2 separate regions of the Homo sapiens genome follow, and region 2 is linked to region 1. The links come from fine-mapping of genetic effects on gene expression. Tissue or cell type: whole blood. Region 1 holds a variant in brackets; the other region holds the start of a gene. All regions are shown on one strand. Distances are between the middles of the regions.

Region 1 (8,000 bases):
TTTCTGGATTGACTGAATTCGGAATTCATGACATGTCAGGGCTACAATGTTCAGCCAGGTCACACAGCTTATCTACAGTAGTGGTCATGGTGGTAGAGGGCCAAGTCTTCAGGAGGGAGGCAGCAGGTAGGGCTAGGGGGCTGGGCTCGCTTGGGTGAGGGTGGAGGATCAATAGGGCACTTCTACTGAGGGCTGGGAGCATGTGACTGATTGTGCACACCAACAAGCCACCATGCCTTGGCATCCCAGTGGCCTTGCCTGTCCCAGCTGGGGCAACAGCTCTGTCTTATTTGGCCCAAGCCACTGGTGGAGACAAGGGCTATTGCTTTTATTTCGTGATCTCCCTGCAGGTGAAGTAACACAACAAACTCCACATACGTACACACCCCACACACATACACACCCTGACATACCTCCTTTTCCCTGAAATTCTCTTCGGGGTCTGCAAAACACACATGACATATGCCTGGCTCTTAAGGGCCGCGCATACACCACATTCCTCAGTACACACCCTGTGTGCATGGACCACGCTCACATGTCTCTGAACTGCGTTGCATATTATTCAACAACATACCAGTGGTAGTGGTTATTATTAGAAATTGCCCAAACCACAAACTTAGAGCAATTCATTTCCCATCTCCCACACCCAGTACTCCCACCCTTCCCACAACAGAGATAAACAGATGCCCTGAACATACACTCTCTTGACAGCCTTTATACCTCTTAGATAAGTTCTGGAACTCTCTCACTGCAGACTGGAGGCTGACCCTCCCTCTCTTTGGAGAGGATCTCTTTCCTGCCATTCATATTGGAGAGTGATACCACCTACCAACTTCTGCCTGGAATAAATATGTTCCATCATTTTATTTTATTTTATTTTTTAATTTAATTTAATTTAATTTAATTATTTTATTTTATTTTTTGAGCCAGAGTCTTACTCTGTTGCCCAGGCTGGAGTGCAGTGGCGTGATCTCGCCTCACTGCAACCTCCGCCTCCCAGGTTCAAGCGATTCTCCTACCTCAGCCTCCCAAGTAGCTGGGATTACAGGTGCGTGCCACCACACCCGGCCAATTTTTTTGTATTTTTAGTAGAGACGGGGTTTGGCCATGTTGGTCAGGCTGGTCTCAAACTCCTGAACTCAGGTGATCTACCTGCCTTGGCCTCCCAAAGTGCTGGGATTACAGGCGTGAGCCACCACGCCCGGCCCGCTGCATCTTCTTTATGCCAGAAGGATAGAGAAGGGGAGTCTTTTTTTTGAGACTCCAGCTCTGTCACTCAGGCTGGAGCGCAGTGGCGCAATCACAGCTCACTGCAGCCTCAACCTTCTGGACTCAAGTGATCCTCCCACTTCAGCCTCCCAAGCAGCTGGGATTACAGGTGCTCACCACCATGCCTGGCTAATTTTTTGTAATTTTTGGTAGAGATGGGGTTTCGCCATGTTGCCCAGGCTGGTCTTGAACTCCTGGGCTTGAGCAATCCACCCTCCTTGGCCTCCCAAAGTGCTAGGATTACCAGCGTGAGCCACTACACCCGGCCGTAAGTCTTATTTCCCAATATCTTTTGGATCTCCCTATCCTATAATCTTTAGTCCACTTAACAGATATTTACTGAGCACTGCCCTTGTGCTGTGCATAGGAATATAGTGGTGACTTGGACAGACAGACGAGATGCGTTCTCACATGAGGAAGACAGATGTTAAATGGCCATATGCTAAATGCTATGTGCTAACTGTGTGATGTGATAGAATCACTAGGGAGGCGAGATGGGGGAGTCTACATTAGGTAGGGTGGTCAAGGAGGGGCTCCCTAAGGAAGTGACATTGGAACTAAGCTCTAAAAGATGAAAAAAGGTAGCTGGCAGTGGTGGCTCACACCTGTAATCCCAGTACTTTGGGAGGCCGAGGCGGGTGGATCACTTGATGTCAGGAGTTTGAGACCAGCCTGGCCAACATGGTGAAACCCCATCTCTACTAAAAATACAAAAAATTAGCTGGGCATGGTAGTGGGCACCTGTGATCCCAGCTACTCTGGAGGCTGAGGCAGGATAATCGCTTGAACCTGGGAGGTGGAGGTTGCAGTGAGCTGAGGTCGGGCCACTGCACTCCAGCCTGGGTGACAGAGCAAGACTCTGTCTCAAAAAAAAAAAAAAAAAAAGCCCAGGTGCAGTGGCTCATGCCTATAATCCCAGCACTTTGGGAGGCCAAGGTGGGCAGATTACTTGAGGTCAGGAGTTCCACACCAGCCTGGCCAACATGGTGAAACCCCATCTGTACTAAAAATACTAAAATTAGCCTGGCATGGTGGTACACGCCTGTAGTCCCAGCTACTCAGGAGGCTGAGGCAGGAGAATCGCTTGAACCTGGAAGGCGGAGGTTGCAGTGAGCTGAGATGGCAACACTGCACTCCAGCCTGGGCAACAGAGCAAGACTCTCACACACACACAAAAAAAAAGATGAAAAAAAAGCCATGCAAATAGCTGGAAGCAGGATCAGCTGCATAATTTGTGGGGCCCAGTGCAAAAGGGCACCTTATTCAAAAATTATTAAAAAGTTAAAGACAGTGGCCAGGTGTGGTGGCGCATGCCTGTAGATCCAGTTACTTGAGAGGCTAAGGCAAGAGGATTGCTTGAGTCTAGGAGTTTGAGGCTGCAGGGAGTTATTATTGCACCTCACTGCATTCTTGCCTGGGCAACAGAGTAAGACCCTGTCTCTAAAAATAAGAGTCTTTTTTGTTTGTTTGTTTGTTTGTTTGTTTCGAGATGGAGTCTCACTCTGTCGCCCAGGCTGAAGTGCAGTGGCGCGATCTCAGCTCACTGCAAGCTCCGCGTCCCGACTAGCTGGGACTACAGGCGCCCGCCATCACACCCAGCTAATTTTTTTTGTATTTTTAGTAGAGATGGGGTTTCACCACATTAACTAGGATAGTCTCGATCTCCTGACCTCGTGATTCACCCATCTTGGCCTCCCAAAGTGCTGGGATTACAGGTGTGAGCCACCTCGCCCGGCCTGTTTGTTTGTTTTTGAGATGGAGTCTCGCTCTGTCACCCAGGCTGGAGTGCAGTGGTGTAATCTTGGCTCACTGCAACTTCCGCCGCCCACATTCTCCAGCCTCAGCCTCCTGCATAGCTGGGATCACAGGCACGTGC[C/G]ACCACGCCCGGCTTATTTTTGTATTTTTCGTAGACATAGGGTTTCACCATGTTGGCCATCCTAGTCTCGAACTCCTGACCTCAGGTGATCCGCCCACCTCGGCCTCCCAAAGTGCTGGGATTACAGGCCTGAGCCACCATGCTGAGCCTAAAAAACTTATTTTAGGCCTTGCGCGGTGGCTCACACCTGTAATCTCAGCACTTTGGGAGGCCGAGGCGGGTGGATCACCTGAGGTCAGGAGTTTGAGACTAGGCTGGCCAACATGGTGAAACCCTGTCTCTACTAAAAATACAAAAAATTAGCCAGGCGTGGTGGCACGTGCCTGTGATCCCAGCTACGCGGGAGGCTGAGGCTGGAGAATTCCGGAGGCAGAGGTTACAGTGAGCCGAGATTGCACCACTGCACTCCAGCCTGGGTGACAGAGCGAGACTCCATCTCAAAAAATGAAATAAAATAAGGTTTTTTTTTTTTTTGAATAACATGTTTAAGAGAAGGACAGCATGAAGCCAGGTGTGGGGCCTCTGTGGGACTTCACAGGTCACCTGCCCATGAAGCCAGTGGTGTTTGAAAGTCAGGTTTTCTGGGAAGAGGGAAGAGCCGGTGCCATTTGGGCTTCTGATCAAGCAAATGCATCAAGATCCACCTTCTATCCCAGTTTTCTTCTTCTCCTACTTTACTCATTTGGACAGTATTTATGGAACTCCTACTCAGTGCCAGGTATTATTCTAGGCATTGAAATTACAGAGTGAAACACACAGGCAAAATTCCTGCTCTCACCATGAGTTTACTTGGGGAAGGTTGGGGGACAGACAGTAGACAGGTCTCTTTGTAAACAAATGGTTCCAAAAGGTTGAGGGGCTAAGAGTGACCAAGTTAGCTGAGTGTAGGAAGGTAGGCTTCAGGCTAGGTAGAGAGGGAAAGGTTCCACCTCCAAGGACAGGCTGTCTGATCCATCCTTCTTCCTCCTCCCTCTCTTTAGACCTCTGGTGCCCCGGGGAGCCCCCAAACACCCCCTGAGCGTCATGACTCTGGTGGTTCCCTGCCCCTGACACCGCGGATGGAGAGCCACTCAGAGGATGAAGATCTTGCTGGGGCTGTCGGTGGCCTGGGCTGGAACAGTAGGAGTCCCCGGACCCAGAGCCCAGGGGGCTGCTCAGCGGAGGCTGTGCTGGCCCGGAAGAAACACCGTCGGCGGCCATCGAAGCGCAAAAGGCACTGGCGACCCTACCTGGAGCTGAGCTGGGCTGAGAAACAACAGCGGGATGAGAGGCAGAGCCAGAGGGCCTCCCGGGTCCGCGAAGAGATGTTCGCCAAAGGCCAGCCCGTGGCCCCCTACAACACCACCCAGTTCCTGATGAATGACAGGGACCCGGAGGAGCCCAACTTGGATGTGCCCCATGGGATCTCCCACCCAGGTTCCAGTGGGGAGAGTGAGGCCGGGGACAGTGATGGGCGGGGCCGAGCGCACGGTGAGTTCCAGCGGAAGGACTTCTCTGAGACTTACGAACGCTTCCACACCGAGAGCCTGCAGGGCCGCAGCAAGCAGGAGCTGGTGCGAGACTACCTGGAGCTGGAGAAGCGGCTGTCGCAGGCGGAGGAGGAGACTAGGAGGCTGCAGCAGCTGCAGGCGTGCACCGGCCAGCAGTCCTGCCGCCAGGTGGAGGAGCTGGCTGCCGAGGTCCAGAGGCTCCGGACCGAAAACCAGCGGCTTCGTCAGGAGAACCAGATGTGGAACCGAGAGGGCTGCCGCTGTGATGAGGAGCCGGGTACCTAGGGGTGCCTCCCAGCCTGGTGGACCCAAGGAGAAGGTCCCATTTCGTGCACACTCAGGCCAGCTGGGTCTCAAGGAGGCAGGTGGCAGATGAAAACCACCGTCAACACCCTGTGCGCCCTGAGAACAGCTAAATCGGTTCAGACTCCCACCTCACCGTTTCCATAGTTGGCTCTTTTGTGTCATCTTACCCTTTACAGAGAAATTAAATGGCCTTGGTGGGACCAAATGGGAGTATCTAGGATTGATTTCACTAGGGCTGTTGTGAGAACCAAAACATTTGCCCCAGAGAGGTCTGAGTGGGGTCCCAGTCCCTGCTGCCCCAAGCCTGGCAGGACAGCAGACCTCTGGATGGGGACCTCCCAAGGTCTCCGGGATACCTGAATCCTGCTCTGTGGGTGTTGGAGCAATCAGACTGCACAGAAGGTTTTCTAGGTGGGAGGGAGTTCAGTCAGGAGCCCCCAGTTTCGGCCAGAAACTGACGCTCAAGATACCAGATCGCTGTGAGGAGTTGTGAGCTTTCCCTGGAGGAGAGAACGGGGGTTTTCGGAGAAGACCCAGGCCCAGGGGTTCCTTCAGAGTTTGCTCCTGAGCTCCCTGTATTCTCCCCACAGTTTAAAGGCTGGACTAGACGGGTTCTGGGTGCCTTGTGCCTCCTTGTTCTTGACAGCCCCCAACCCTGACCCCTCTCTGCAGGGGGTTGGGCCTGAGGTTAGTCATCATGTGTTTGTGTTTGTCCCTTACCTCCCAAGGGTAATAAGGGAGGCGCTCTCCTGATGGAAAATAAAGTCAAGAGACAGAGGGGGACAGCACATGGATCGCCAGCAGAGCAGAGCAGCCTGGCTCTCCTGGTGCCTGCCATGTGTCTGTGCGTCCTGCTCCTCTCAGCCTCATCATGTGGGTGTGAATTCTCTGAAGTGTGTGAGGCCCTCGCCTGTCTGCATCAGAGAGAGCTGGGTCAGCCTGGGTAACGCAGATACCACCAGCCAGCGTCAGGCTCTGAGACAAGCTCACCCACCCCCTCGCACTCAGACCCACCCTTCCCCAGACACCCTGTCTCTTCCATCCCCTCCTGGTGCCCTTGCAGACTGGTGTTGGGTGTCAGGCAGCAATGAACATGGACAACTAATGGTGGCGGAGGAAATTAGTCAACTCACCAGTGAGCCAGTGCTGGCTGTGCCACCAGGCAAGGGGAGGGGCAGAGGCCTGGCTGCCCAGTCTGGCTTCTCTTCCAGGCCGTCATCTTGACAGGCCACACTGGGCAAGATGAGGCTTGGCCCAGGAGCTGCTGGGGATGGAAATGTTGATGAAATCTTGTGTGTTGCCAGGACAACTTTCATTTCTATCCTGCCACACCCAGGCCTGGCCAGAGCCTCCTACAATGAAACACAGAACAGATTCTAGGAACGCATGGGTTTCAAGAGAAAGCAAAATCTCATCCTGGGAGACCTGCCCCTGGAACCCTGGGTCCTCAGACAGCTCAGTCAGGAAGGGCAGCAGGAATGATCATCGCCACTTTGCAGACGGGAAACCGGAGGCTTAGCGAGGAAGTGGCTTTTTGGATTCCAGGAGAGCCTCTGGAGGCCTGCCTGCCCCTGTGGGGTGCTGTGGGGTGCTAGCCTGGGACCCAGAGGCCCCTTGGCATTTGCTGGCAGCCTCCCAGCTGCATTCCTCAGCATGGAGCCCGAGGGAGAGAGGAGGCCTGGGACAAAGGTGGACAAAGGTTGTTTACCCGGAGGTGCCTCTGTGTGTGTGTGTCTAGGAGGTGAGAGAAGATTCCAGAGGGCTGCTGGAGTGTCGGGGGAGGGGTGTGGGTGAGGGTGCTGGGTGCTCATTGTGGGCTGGTTATGCCAGGGAGGGGCAGGTGAAGAGTTTGGCCTTTCTTGGCCCAGAAGCTGAGGAGCCTGGAGGCAGGGAAGCTGCCAGCTGCTCCTCCAACATCCCCCTTACACGTAAAAGGCTGAAGGGCGCAAATAGGGCAGCACCTCGGTGGGTTAATTCCCGCACCCCCACCTCACCCCGCTGGAGGGCGGGTGGGGCAAGAAGAGAACAAAGGAGAGGATGCTAGCCGGGAGTGTGGGAGGGCCTGAACCCAAATGGGAGGGGTCCGTGAAAAGGGTCCCTGTCTGCCCCTCCCCCTGTCTGGCTCCCTGATTCCTGGGTAAGGGGTGTGCAGGGAGGAGATCGTCCTGGGGCCAGAGCTGGGGCTTAGCACTGGAGAGAACCGGCTCAGCTGTGGGTGGGAGCCAGGCCTGGGTCCCTCGGTGCCCCGCCCCCTTCGCTGCTTCCAGTTGTTCCCACACCTGCTGCTTGGTCTTGAAGCCTGGGCCTCCACTCCGCCTACTGCAATGGTGGAAGCTCCAGTTTACAAGACACCCCCACCCCCACATCACACGCCCTAGCTGGGGAAGTTGGGCTTGGACACAGCCTCCCTGGGCCTTTCCACAGCTGCCCTCACGCCCTGTGCTTTCTGGGACCCTCTTGGTCAACTGGGCCGGGGAAGGGAAGCGCAGAGAACATATGTTTCATGGGAGTGACTGTTGAAGCCTCCCACCACCCCTGCCCAGCCTGTCTTAGGATCCCTCTTTCTTCCCCGGCAGGAACTGCCCGACCCCAGGTGGAAACTCCTGTGCCCAGTGGACAGACCCTGCCTGCAATAGGGTCAGAGTATGAGGGAGAGGGGTAGGCAGAGATTGGTGGGCTGGGGCAGGAAGAAGCTGCCAGGGAGTGGGGGGAGGGGGTCCAAAGGGAAGTAACGGTATTGGGGGGAAAGGTGGCCAGGTCCCATTGCCCTTGTTGGGAACAGGCAAGTGTGGCACTGGCCCTTTAAGTGGGGGTGCCAGTCAGTGCCCTCCCCCAACCAACCCAATTCATGGGCACACTGAGCATGTGCAGGGGCTGTGCATGTGGGGAGGGGAGGAGAGGGGAGGGGAGAGGGGGGCATACATTCCGGAGGGAGCTTCTCATCCCCCTACTTCCGGTAGCTGCCCCCACTCTCCTTCCTGGGTCTGACAAAGGAGCCCATGGTGCTCACCCAATCCCTTCCCCCACCCCAGGCCCCAGGGGGTGCTGCCCTCTGCAAG
Region 2 (8,000 bases), 33 kb before region 1:
CGTGCAGCCTGGGGAATCCACGAACTGCTCCCTGGAGCGCCCCAGACTGGGCCTCTGGGAACGGTCCGCGCCCACCCCACCGCCCCTTGCCCGTCACTGACCCATCTTCTTCAGCGCCCGCAGCCCGGGCCTCTTGGTGCCGCCATCGGAGGGAGTCGGCGGGGACGGGAGAGCGACCGGCGCCGCGACTTGGGCTGCGACCTGGGCGGCCACCGGGGGCTCCTCGGGCGGGCGGCGGCAACGCCTCCAGCGGCCGCACAGCATGGCTTGGCGGGGGGCCGGGGCCGGGCCCGGGGTCTGCACGCGGGGACAGGGCAGCGGGGCGCCGCTCTGGCCCGGCCCCGGCTCTGAGCGAGGCGGCGAGCGAAGAAACTTAGCGGCGCGGGAGGGAGTCGGAGGAGGCAGCAGGAGGTGGGGCGGGGCGGGGCGGGAAGGGAAGGGGGCGGGGCCGGGGCGGTGCGAGGGCGGGGCCAGGCGGTGGCCTGGAAGCCCGGAGCCTCAGCGCTCGCCCCTGCTCGTGAGTCCGTCTCCCCTTAGTCCGGGCGAGCCTCTGATCTTGGCCGCAAGGGTGACTAGAGCCCCCATGCTGCGGGGCTGGGGGTGGGAGCCGGCACCGGGGACGAGGGCCATCCTCTGGCACAGACACCCTCTCCTTCCCGGGGGCCCTGACTCGAGGCTGACGCAGGACCCCCTCCTCCTTCCCTTCCGCGTCCCCGTCGCGCCGCAGGCCTCAGCAGGGAACCAGAGCCGGGACAGGACGCAGGGCCGGGAGCGAAGGCAGAACCCCGGGAGCTGAGCCGCTCGGGGCAGCGCGAACCCGAAGGGATGGGCATGGGGGTGGGGAGGTTGGCAGTGACGTCATAGGATTAACCTCCCTGTGCCAGGCCAGGTGCTGCCCCCTCGGAGAGCCACAGTCTCGGAGCTGACGGACCTGGGGAGCGTGAGGCGGAGCCGAGCCTGGAGTCCCCAGCAACTGGTTCTGGGTTCGAGGCTTGGACAGGCCGGCACCCCAGCCCGGCACCCGCGGTGTAGTTGTCCGCGACGTCAACCCGTGGGTGGGCATCCGTGTGCAGGTTCTGGTGGCCGAGTCGGGTGTGCACTTACTATTTATATGCAAGCACCAGAGTGCGTGCGCGAAGTGGGGGACGTCCAGGTGGCAGCGTTTCTGCGGCCGGTGGCCTGGGTCCGGCAGAGACATGGGCGCACACCGCCACTTTGCGGCGGCCAGCGGCGTGGCATCCTACAGAGAGGCTAGTGCTCAGGGCCTGATTTGCCACCTACTTGCCCTGCTCTACCCCATCCTCAGATCTCCCAGGCCCAGAGATTCTGCACACTGGCTTGGGTCCCTACGCCACTCTGGGGTCCTGAATTTTCTTTTTTTTTTTTTTTTTTTTTTTTTTTTTGAGACGGAGTCTCGCTCCGTCGCCCAGGCTGGAGTGCAGTGGCGGGATCTCGGCTCACTGCAAGCTCCGCCTCCCGGGTTCACGCCATTCTCCTGCCTCAGCCTCCCAAGTAGCTGGGACTACAGGCGCCCGCCACTACGCCCGGCTAATTTTTTGTATTTTTAGTAGAGACGGGGTTTCACCGTTTTAGCCGGGATGGTCTCGATCTCCTGACCTCGTGATCCGCCCGCCTCGGCCTCCCAAAGTGCTGGGATTACAGGCGTGAGCCACCGCGCCCGGCCCTGAATTTTCTTCTTGATTATCGTATTCGCCTTTGTGCTTTTGATCCTGCCGTTCCTTCCTCCAGAAACAACCTTCCTTATTCTCCTGGTTTACCCTTTTGTTATTCTTGTTGTTGGATAGGCTAAGTCTACATTTCTTTTAATTGTTATGGACACTTAATAGTTGCAGAGAATTATGGAGAGGCATGTAATGTTTTGATACAGGTATAAAATGTGTAATGATCAAATCAAGGTAATTGAAGTAACCATCACCTCAAGCATTTATCATTCCTTTGTATTAGGAACATTCCAATTCCGCTTTTAGTTATTTGTATTTGTATTTTATTTGTTTATTAGAGACAAGGTCTCACTACTTGGTTGCCCAGGGTGGAGTGCAGTGGCATGATCATAGCTCACTGCAGCCTCAAAGCAATTCTCTTGCCTTGGCCTCCCAAAGTGTTGGGACTACAGGCCTGAGCCACCACTTCCCGCCCAGTTATTTTGAAATATACAATAAATTGGCCGGATGCGGTGGCTCACGCCTGTAATCCCAGCACTTTGGGAGGCAGAGGTGGGATGATCACTTGAGGCCAGGTATTGAATGAAGACCAGCCTGGGCAACATAATGAGACTTCTGCCTCTACAAAAATTGTTTTTAAAATAATTAATTTAAAAAGATACAATAGGCCGGGCGCGGTGGCTCACGCCTGTAATCCCAACACTTTGGGAGGCCGAGGTCGGCGGATCACGAGGTCAGGAGATCGAGACCATCCTGGCTAATATGGTGAAACCCCGTCTCTACTAAAAAATACAAAAAATTAGCTGGGCGTGGTGGCGAGCGCCTGTAATCCCAGTTGCTCGGGAGGCTGAGGCAGGAGAATGGCGTGAACCCGGGAGGCGGAGATTGCAGTGAGCCGAGATCACGCCACTGCACTCCAGCCCGGGAGAGAGTGAGACTCCGTCTCAAAAAAATAAATAAATAAAATAAAATAAACAAAATAAAAAGATACAATAAATTATTGGTAACTATAATCGTTGTATTGTGCTACCGAACACTGGATCTCATTCATTCTAACTGTATTTTTGTACCCATTTCCCCCCCTCCCCAGTACCCTTCCCAGCCTCTGGTAACCATCATTCTGCGATGTCCATTTTGCTTACTCTTTTTTTTTTTTTGAGATGGAGTCTCACTCTCGCCCAGGCTGGAGTGCAGTGGGGCAATCTTGGCTCACTGCAATCTCCACCTCCCGGGTTCAAGCGATTCTCCTGCCTCAGCCTCCCGTGTAGCTGGGATTACAGGCGCGCGCCACCACGCCCGGCTAATTTGTGTATTTTTAGTAGAGATGGGGTTTCACTATGTTGGCCCGGCTGGTCTCGAACTCCTGACCTCAGGTGATCCGCCCGCCTTGGCCTCCCAAAGTTCTGGGATTACAGGCATGAGCCACCGTGCCCGACCATCTTCCAAAACTGAGCTGTGATGTCCTTCCTCTAGAACACCTGACCACAGGACATGACTTTTTTTAATCCCCAGTGCCTAAGTGTCTAGAGAGCTGAGTGGGTTGCCTCGGATCGGCCAGGCCTGGATATCAGCGAACAGATGCGGATTTCCACCAGGGGGCGCTAGGACGCCACGACCTTTCACTATGTGCACCAGGGGGCGCTGCCGCCCGCCTTGGCCATCCCGGGCTGGGAAGTCCGACCCTTCGATTAAGCCCCGCCTGATTGGGAAAGGCTCTGAGAAACTATTTGCATGATCTTGAAAGAGCTGTGCTGAATGGTTGAGGTAGGTAAGCCGAATGTGAAACAGGCTCTCTCATTGGCCTAAATTCCCCCCCTCGATCTGCGTCGCCATCCCGGCCCTGCTGGACCCCGGGGTCAGTAGGAAGCCGCGGGGTGGTGGCGAGAGAGGACCCAGGTGTCCTGGCAGTGGGCGCCGCGGGGCACACGCTGGGCCAAGGTGCAGGCGGCCAGGGTGGGAGACTGTTCGCCCCGCCCTGAGTACTCCTATCTTGTTTCTCCACCTGTTCGGGAGTTGGAGATGTGCACCTAAAGGAGGCGCATCTGGGGACGGACACATCTGGCACTGAGGCCCTCGCCACCTGCCTCGCCACCTGGCGACCCTGACCCCACCACACTGCCTTGAGGTAGGAAAAGGAGGCTCCTCAACCACAACTTCTGACCTCCCAGGGTGTCTGAGGCCTCTAAAGAGCTTAGTTTGCCCCTCTGGGAAGTGAATCCTTGGCTTATGGTGCCGGGGGGACCCTGGAGGCCCCCTCACACGAAGGCTGCTTCTTGCAGAGTCGCTCAAAAGTAGGGCCCCAGGGCTCGCAGCAGCATGGGCACCGAGAAAGAAAGCCCAGAGCCCGACTGCCAGAAACAGTTCCAGGCTGCAGTGAGCGTCATCCAGAACCTGCCCAAGAACGGTGAGGCTGCGGGGACTCGCATTTGGACTCGCATTCAGGACGCCTGGGGTCTGACTCTGAAGAAAGAATGGTCCTGATCACTGCAGTTTTTGCAGACAAGCCCCTGCCTGGGCTGTCCTGGGGGTTCCCTCCGCTTCCTATCCTAGTCCAGATGCCCTGGGTGGGACCCATCACCACCTCTGCCCTTTCCAAGCAGGGTTCTCCCGCCCCTCCGCCCCTTGGAGCTGGGAGTGATGCTTTGCCCTGGCTTCCCAACTCTCTGCCCAGGTTCTTACCGCCCCTCCTATGAAGAGATGCTGCGATTCTACAGTTACTACAAGCAGGCCACCATGGGGCCCTGCCTGGTCCCCCGGCCCGGGTTCTGGGACCCCATTGGACGATATAAGTGGTGAGCTCCCTGCTGGCTGGGCAGACAAGCCTCAGCTGTCAAGCAGCCCTCTCACAGCCCTCTGCCCCCAGGGACGCCTGGAACAGTCTGGGCAAGATGAGCAGGGAGGAGGCCATGTCTGCCTACATCACTGAAATGAAACTGGTGGCACAGAAGGTAAGGGCTGCAGGTTCTCTGTCCCCAGGCTCCTGGCCAGGTGGCCTCACCCTTCCAGTTCTGACCCCCACTACGTTTCCTACACATGGACCCCCTCATGGGAATCACCACCTTCATGTTACCCCCAACCCTGCCTATCTTTGGCCCCTGACTGGGCACAGGGTGGAGGTGTGTGACAGGGCAGGAGCAGGGAGGAAGGGACAGGAGGCCACTCCGTCCCCAACAGACCCCCTCCCCTACAGGTGATCGACACAGTGCCCCTGGGTGAGGTGGCAGAGGACATGTTTGGTTACTTCGAGCCCCTGTACCAGGTGATCCCTGACATGCCGAGGCCCCCAGAGACCTTCCTGAGAAGGGTCACAGGTCAGACTCCCAGGCTGGGAGCTCCAAAAGTGCTGAGTGAACCGTCTTAGGTCTAGGCTGAGGTGGGCTGGGGGCAGAGGGCTCCAGGCGACATCCCTGTTAGGGCCCCCAAGCCCCCGAGAGGTGGATCCCAGGCAGCATCCACGGCTCATCACGAGTAGGGGCTTGATCACACTGGGAGGTGCCAGCCTCTCCCCAGGCCCACCTCTGGGTGCTGTGTCTTGGCAGGTTGGAAAGAGCAGGTTGTGAATGGAGATGTTGGGGCTGTTTCAGAGCCTCCCTGCCTCCCCAAGGAACCGGCACCCCCAAGCCCAGGTTAGTGCTTGAGCAGGAGGGGTGGACCAAACTCAGGCTGGGGGAGGGCTGGAGGGGAGAAGGCTGGATGCCACGCTGTGCCCTCCACAGACACTGAGACTTCCTGTGCTCCCAAAGGTGGGGACCGGGGTCTAGGATTCCTGTTCCAGGGCCTTGCTTCTGGCGCCCATCTGTGCCTCAGGTGTTGATATCTCTAGTGCCTCGTATCTCTAGTGTCTCCTAAACAGGTGCTTCTGCCCAGTGCACACTCCTGCTCTCCCTCCACAGCTTCCCTCTGGGCAGTAACTCTACCAACCCCTCCACAGAGTCCCATTCACCCAGGGACCTGGACTCCGAGGTTTTCTGTGATTCCCTGGAGCAGCTGGAGCCTGAGCTGGTGAGCCCAGTCCCCATTCCCCCCTTTTCCCACCCCACTGTGCTCCCACTCCCACCCTCAGCTCTCTGACTCATCTCAGCAGGTTTGGACAGAGCAGCGGGCAGCATCTGGAGGAAAGCGTGATCCCAGGAACAGCCCCGTGCCCCCCACAAAGAAAGGTGAGCTCCTACCCAACCTCTCACCCACTTCTGCCCTTTCCCGTGGTCCTGGCACCCCAGGCTTTCTCTTGGCTGCCTTCCTAGGGCAGAGTTGAAAGTCCATTGCTGGGCACTGAGCGAGAAGCCTCTGTCCAGGAAGGGCTGCCAACCAGCCAGATACCTGCCTGGATGGGCAAAGTCCCCGCCCTCCCTCCTCTCCCCAAAGGGCACCCAGGAGTCTGCACCCTCTGCAGGTCCTGAGTAAGGCCAGCGGGATGGGAGTCCTAGCCCAGTTCTCCCACCTACAGCTGCACAGCCTCAGGAAGTCATCCATATTCTCTGGACTCCCCCGTTTGGAAATCTCAGAAGACAATGAGTTCTGCCCTCTTCCCTTCTAGAACTCCTGTTGTGTGTCAGGTCCTGTATGGACATTTTGAAAAGTTTCTCCTTTTTTCCTCTGAGCAAGCAGCCCTGTGAGAGAAATGACATCTTCTCCTAATTTTTAGATGACAAAATGATGCCCAGAGAAGTTAATGACTTTGGCCGGGCACGATGGCTCACGCCTGTAATCCCAGCACTTTGGGAGGCCAAGGCAGGCAGATCACCTGAGGTCAGGAGTTTGAGACCAGCCTGGCCAACATGGTGAAACCCTGTCTGTATTAAAAATACAAATATTAGCCGGGTGTGGTGGGCACCTATAATCCCAGGTATTCGGGAGGCTGAGGCAGGAGAATCGCTTGAATCCAGGAGGCGGAGGTTGCAGTGAGCCGAGGTCATTGTGCCACTGCACTCCAGCCTGGGCAACAGAGCAAGACTGTCTAAAAAAAAAAAAAAAAAGGTAATGACTTGATCTGTGTCATAAGCGGCCATGCTGGGATTAAACCCATAGCAGCCCATTACTCAGCTACATAGATGGACTTTGCAAGAATCACACTTGGTACAGCGACTGGGTTCCACTCCTACACTTTCCTGGGCTTGCCCCAGCCTGCCCCCACCCTGCCCAGAGCTGAATTGCCTCCTGAGCCCCCTTCCCTGTGTGTCTGTGCTCCGCAGAGGGGTTGCGGGGCAGCCCGCCGGGGCCCCAGGAGTTGGACGTGTGGCTGCTGGGGACAGTTCGAGCACTACAGGAGAGCATGCAGGAGGTGCAGGCGAGGGTGCAGAGCCTGGAGAGCATGCCCCGGCCCCCTGAGCAGGTAGAGTCCCCCACCCCATAGGACAAGATGATGGCAGAATCCGGTCTTTATTCTGGGCTCCTCTTCCAGCCACTTTTGTTTTTGTCCTCACGCCTCCACCTGCCCACATCTCTCTCCAGAGAATGGCATGGCTCCTGCTACAGGCAGGAGGTGGGGGTGAGGGTGGAGGGGGCTGACATGCTTCTACTCTGAAGGCACAGTGGGTGGGGCCCTTTGCCGTTCTCCCCTCCCTCTGCCTGGAGAGAAGCTAAGCCTCAGGACTAATCCCGTGTGGGAAGGGCCATGATGTGTCTGCTCTGGGCATTGAGGATGCGGGTCCCTATTGCCCCTCAGTCAGGACTTCCATTCCCAGAATTAGGATTTGCCCCAAATGGTTCAGCCCTTGCATCCCTCTCCTCAACTCCTAGCTCTGCTTGCCTCTGACACTTGGGATCCTGGGCTCCTGCAAACTAAATAACAGCTGCCATTGCTGGAGCCCCGCTGGGTGCGAAACACTCATGGGCATCTTCCCACTGAATCCACACAACAGCCCTATGAGATAGAGTTTCTTTTCACCTCCCTTTTAGAGAGGGAAACTAAAGCTCCAAGGGGCTAATTTGCCTGAGGGCACACAGCCTGGGAGAGCCTCTCTGAGCTACTGTGAGGATTCAACCATGCATGTTGGTGCTTCAGTGGTGCCCACCAAACAGAAAGCCTTCTCCAGTCGGTTCTGTTGCTACTATTGCTGTTAATATTAACATTAAGCGATGGAGTTGGCAGTGGCCCCTATTCTGTCTCCCTGCAAAGCTGGTACCCACCATTAACTCTGAGTGGGTCTGTTCTTGAAAAGCCTGAGGTAGTGGGGGCAGAGAGGGCTGGGTTCCCAGATGTGAGGCATCTCTGGGGTGACCGCTAATCCACTCAGCACAGCAGGTGTGAGCCCACAGCAGCAGGATTTCCTCAGATCCACGATGGCTAACTTTTCAACACTGCTCCTCCCCCTCAAC

Evidence for each region. PIP is the estimated chance that this variant, and not a neighbour inherited with it, causes the effect.
Region 2: it holds the start of ACBD4, and the variant in region 1 is fine-mapped to the expression of ACBD4 in whole blood (TOPMed, PIP above 0.99).

What each region holds. Positions count from the first base shown.
Region 1 is chr17:45,164,890-45,172,889 of GRCh38, forward strand. It overlaps HEXIM2 (HEXIM P-TEFb complex subunit 2), which reads left to right. Exons shown (of 4, transcript NM_001303441.2): 4 at 4,126-5,146. The coding sequence ends at 4,920. It overlaps HEXIM2-AS2 (HEXIM2 antisense RNA 2), which reads right to left and starts at 6,596. Exons shown (of 2, transcript NR_135646.1): 1 at 6,075-6,596; 2 at 3,916-5,441. RefSeq lists enhancers at 5,488-6,446, 6,533-6,827, 7,405-8,000 and a silencer at 6,993-7,287. The variant C/G (reference allele first, on the strand shown) is at 3,146.
Region 2 is chr17:45,132,147-45,140,146 of GRCh38, forward strand. It overlaps ACBD4 (acyl-CoA binding domain containing 4), which reads left to right and starts at 3,541. Exons shown (of 10, transcript NM_001135705.3): 1 at 3,541-3,807; 2 at 3,962-4,086; 3 at 4,354-4,474; 4 at 4,546-4,630; 5 at 4,873-4,993; 6 at 5,222-5,308; 7 at 5,614-5,684; 8 at 5,767-5,842; 9 at 6,875-7,014. The coding sequence starts at 3,999. PLCD3 (phospholipase C delta 3) reads right to left here and starts at 369. Exons shown (of 15, transcript NM_133373.5): 1 at 102-369. The coding sequence starts at 264. RefSeq lists silencers at 173-302, 403-622 and an enhancer at 1,093-1,162.